2 separate regions of the Homo sapiens genome follow, and region 1 is linked to region 2. The links come from fine-mapping of genetic effects on gene expression. A gene starts in region 2. The other region holds a variant in brackets. All regions are shown on one strand. Distances are from middle to middle. Region 1 overlaps SYNPR (synaptoporin). Region 2 holds the start of SYNPR (synaptoporin).

Region 1 (2,500 bases), 58 kb after region 2:
TGCAATAACCTTTGCACCAACCTAATAGTTCCACTAGCAGATACTTTTAAAACCTGATACTGGAAGAAGGCTTAATTACAGAATAGGAATGAGCCCCTCACATGCACCCTGCACTGTGTGGTCTCTGGGCTACAGCTCTGTTCTCTGGGGTACAGAGTCCAGGGAGAGACAACTGTTAATAGGTTGATGCAAAAGTAATTGCGGTTTTTGCCATTAAAAGAAATGGCAGGCCTGGCGCCGTGGCTCACGCCTGTAATCCCAGCACTTTGGGAGGCCGAGGCGGGTGGATCACAAGGTCGGGAGATCGAGACCATCCTGGCTAACACGGTGAAACCTCGTCTCTACTGAAAAACAAAAAATTAGCCAGGCGTGGTGGCGGGTGCCTGTAGTCCCAGCTACTCGGGAGGCTGAGGCAGGAGAATGGAGTGAACCCGGGAGGCGGAGCTTGCAGTGAGCCGAGACTGCGCCACTGCACTCCAGCCTGGGCAACAGAGCGAGACTCCGTCTCAAAAAAAAAAAAAAAAAAAAAATGGCAAAAACTGCAAGTACTTTTGGGCCAATAATATAAGTGTTGGGTTTGGTGCACTGGCACGTGAAGAAAATCAGGGCCAATTGAAGCCACTGTACCTGAAAGTCCAGGAGATTTCCATTTTCCTTGAATTTGGTTTAACCAAATTAACGCACATTAAAGCCATGACCTAGGAATGAATGGTCATGCCTTTGAGAAACTGTTAACCTGAGAGCTTCCTCTGATCTTGGTAGCCTTAACCAAGGTATTCGCTTGGCATACAATACTCCCTTGTTCCTCTTGACCTTGTACTTCTGTCTGGCCACTGTCCTTTACACACTCTCCCTTTTGCTTGCCTATCTCCTAGTCTTTAAAGGCCACTTTTCTAACACACTCAAGTCCATATTAGCTTCCTTTTTTTTTTTTTTTTTTTTTTTTGAGACAGAGTTTTGCTCTTGTTGCCCAGGCTGGAGTGGTGCAATGGTGCAATCTCAGCTCACCGCAACCTCTGCCTTCCAGGTTCAAGCGATTCTTCTGCCTCAGCCTCCCCAGTAGCTGGGGTTACAGGCATGTGCCACCACACCCAGCTAATTTTGTATTTGTAATAGAGACGGGGTTACTCCATGTTGGTCAGGCTGGCCTTGAACTCCTAACCTCAGGTGATCCGCCTGCCTCGGCCTCCCATTAGCTTCCTTTTTTATGTCTCATTTAGCAGAAAATAGAAATGTTAAAAACAACCTAAATGTCTGACCATTCGAATGTGATTAAATATATCATGGAATAATATGCAGTGACAAAAAATATTTACTTGGAAAATTTTACATTATTTAATTAGGTAAAATAATTATAAAAGAGTATGT[A/G]TAATATTTTCTAGAGGATACAACTATGAATTTCTGCTTGAAGATGAAACTAAAAACTATCAGGATAGTACAGGGAAGAGATTATGCAATGCATAAAAGGATCTCAAATATACAACACACATACACACGAATAAAAGGCTAATTAAATATTCATCAAAATGTTAACAATGATGAACTTTGTAGTTACAAACGTGCACTATTTTACAATCTAAAAAGTTTATGTTTAAAATTTAGTCTCAATGCAATCCAATGGAGAAAAGATAATCTTTTGAATAAATAGTACTAGAACAAGTGGACATTCCCATGCAAAAAAAAAAAAAAAAAAAAAAAAAAAAAAAAAAAAAAAAAAAGACTCTATACAATAGCTTACCCTTTTCACAAAATTTAACTCAAAATAGATGGAGACCTGAATGTAAAATGCAAAATTAAAAAACTTCTCAAAGACAACATAGAAAAAAATCTAAGTGATCTTGGATTTGGTAATGATTATTAGATACATCACCAAAAGCACAATCTATGAAAGGAAAAAATTAAGTTAGATTTCATTAAAATTAAAAACTTCTGCTCTGTGAAAGACACTGTTAAGGGAATGAAAGACAAGCCACAGATTGCAAGAAAATATTTGTAAAACATATATGTGATAAAGCACTTGTATCCAGGATATATAAAAAATTATTAATACTCAACAATTAAAAACTGTATAGACACCTAGAGCCAAAGAAGATATGTCCATGAAAGGTCAGGCATGGTGGCTCACACCTGTAATCCCAGCACTTTGGAAGGTCCAGGTGGGCAGATCACTTGAGGTCAGGAGTTCGAGACCAGCCTGGCCAACATGGTGAAATCTTGTCTCCACTAAAAATCCAAAAATTCTCTGGGTGTGGTGGCACATACTTGTAATCCCAGCTACTTGGGAGGCTGAGGCAGGAGAATTGATTGACCCAAGGAGGCAGAGGTTGCAGTGAGCAAAGATTGTGCCACTGTACTCCAGCCTGGGTGACAGAGTGAGACTCTGTCTCCAAAAAAAAAAAAAAAAAAAAAAAAGATGCTCAACATAAAATGTCATTATAGAACTGCAAATTAAAACAACAATAAGAACTACATACCTATTTACCTATTAGAATGGTTAAAA
Region 2 (2,500 bases):
TATTGAATGAAGTAATGTTTGTAAAGCCCTTAGCACAGTTTTCAGCTCATAGAAAGAACTCACTTGTTTGGTTGTTGTTGTTTTTATTATATTCAGCAAGATTAGCCCACTAAGAGTAAACAACGTGAACCACCTTTCACTAAGTTTCAAGAAAACAGTCTAACTTTGGAGGAGGGACCCAGTGTTATATTTATGAGTTTGACAAGGGAGTTCATTTGGGGGTCAGATATCAGGCAAAAGATCTCAGTAGAAATAAAATGAGTTTGAAAGGTACCTAAATTTCATTCCCTGTTTAGCCTTTCATGAGATGTTTTACCTTGGCCATTTCATCCTTGCTAAATCTGTTTTCCACTGGCGCATGGTCCCACATTCAAGATTAATTTGTTTCCACCTCTTCTCTCCAGGCAGTTTCCTCTGTCCTGGTCCTCTCTCTGGCATCCACAGGCCAAGATGGATCCCCTGCCCTGTGCCCATGGCCCCTGTGCTCTGCTCTGCGCCACTGTCCAGACCACATTGCAAGTTATTTTTCCCCTTTTGCTTCCCCTGGGGGAAGTGACAATGCTTATCCTGTTTTTTTGATGTACCCCAGCACCTAAGCACTGCCTGCCCACAGGAAGGATGCTCCATAAAGGCTTGAAGGAATGAATGAAAGAGCCAACAAATAGTTATTTTTTTATTTTTATGTATTTATCATTATTATTATTTTGCTGTTTGGAAGTCATCAGAACTCACACAGATGTCTCAGGTAAAGTGTGGGTGTCTTCCTCCTACCTGGAAACCCCTTCTTCAGGTGGACAGCCGTCTTGCTGATGGTGCCAAGCCCGCTTTCCCAAACCAACAGACCCAAAGTTTCCCCGGAGCCAGAGGGCACCGGGCGCACGGCTGAGCCTGCACCAATGTCTGTGGGCCCTGCCTCGCCCACCTCCTCGCCCTCCCCTCTGGAGCGCGGCTGGCCAATGACAGCCTTCCCCTGGCTCCATGGGTTTCCCCCTCCCCTGTTGTATCTACCCTGCCCCAGCTCTTCCCTGCCCACCCCTCGCTGACTCGCTTCGCTTCCCCGACGCGCTGGGTTCCCGGAGCGCAGAGCCCAGCGTTAGCGGGTGGGCTCCCCGAGGCCCCCTGCCCTCGCCGGGCTGCTCCAGGGTGTCGCTCCTCTGGCTGCTCCCGAAGGGGCTTCTGGCCCTGAGGACGGTGGTGCCAAGCGAACTTCATTTTTAAAAAGAACTGGTGGATGAGAAGAGCGAGCGAGGGCGAGCTATGGACCCTGTGAGTCAGGTGAGACAGAACTGGGCAGGGCGGCTGGCTGGGAGCAGGGGGCGGGGGATGCCGCGGCTTGGGAGAGGCGCCCCCAGCCCCTTCCTCACGCTTTGCTTTCTCTCTCTCGCCTCATTCCCCCAAAGCTGGCCTCTGCGGGCACCTTCCGGGTGCTGAAGGAGCCCCTTGCCTTCCTGCGAGCCCTGGAATTGGTGAGTAGCAGTGTGTGTGCAGGGAGGGGCGCCAGGCAGCCAGCTATCAGGTGAGGAGAGGTCGGATGGGGTGCTCCCTGCTCAGTTCTGCTCCAAGCCGGAGATTCAACCCTCAAGCCGGGGATTTCAATCCTGCCCCCTCCTAAGATGCCGTTCCAAGGTGGTGAGGACAAAATCGAGGCACCCTGCTTGGAGGCGGGAGTGTGGACGCATTTTTGCAGGGGCTTAGACAAGTGTCGTCTCACCTCACCGCTTGCAGACGCGCAGGGGCTGTGGAAAGAAACCTCCCCCTTGGGAGATAGGGGAGGGGGGCGCATGGAAGGGCTGCCGCTGGGTTCTGGCCCCTCACCTGGACCTTCGTGGGGATGAGGGGATGGGTGGAGGGACCCATAGTTGAGCGGAGGAGCCGGGAAGACTTGGCCAAGCTCAGAAAGTTGGTCAGAACTGAGACAGCTCCTCTGCGGGACTGGGATGCTGGAAGCGCGTGTTCAACTGCTCCGCGGGAGCTTCAGGGAGGGAAAGATGCTGCGAAGCTATTACAGACTGTTATAAACGGCGGCGGGTAGAGAGCAGAACTCCTTCCTTCCCTACTATAGTTTCTTTTCTCTGGCCACTCCTCTAGGGCTTTTCTGATTATACCCAGAAGAGCCCACCAGCCTGTTTGCCATGGCTTTCTTCAGCGACTGGGCTTTAGGAAGTTGTATTCCACTTCCGTGAAACCACCCTGACGCTCTTATTGCAATTTGTCTATGGGCAGAGGAGTGAGGCACAGAAACGGTTACCCACAGGGCCACAGAGCCATGTCAGTGTTGTTGGCTGGATGATGGTTATTCAGAATGAAATCTGCAGGTCACACGTTTCGTCTTGCTAGGAACTCCAAAAGGCAAGCAAACCTATCTGAATAGAAAGTTCAAAGCCTGTCATGTAGCATTAATCAGAGTCCCTAACACTGACTAGCTGGGAAATTATGTAAGAGCCTGTTCTCTGTTCCCAGATCTTAGCTCCAAGGGCTTATATCTGGCAGTGGCTACATA

The links. PIP is the estimated chance that this variant, and not a neighbour inherited with it, causes the effect.
Region 1: its variant is the best candidate, but not a certain one, in a credible set for the expression of SYNPR in thyroid (GTEx, PIP 0.83).

Annotation. Positions count from the first base shown.
Region 1 is chr3:63,334,845-63,337,344 of GRCh38, forward strand. The region is part of intron 2 of SYNPR (synaptoporin); the gene reads left to right. Among named protein-coding and RNA genes, the nearest start is that of SYNPR, 58 kb to the left of the region's middle. The variant A/G (reference allele first, on the strand shown) is at 1,369.
Region 2 is chr3:63,277,277-63,279,776 of GRCh38, forward strand. SYNPR (synaptoporin) reads left to right here and starts at 1,032. Exons shown (of 6, transcript NM_001130003.2): 1 at 1,032-1,275; 2 at 1,401-1,466. The coding sequence starts at 1,258.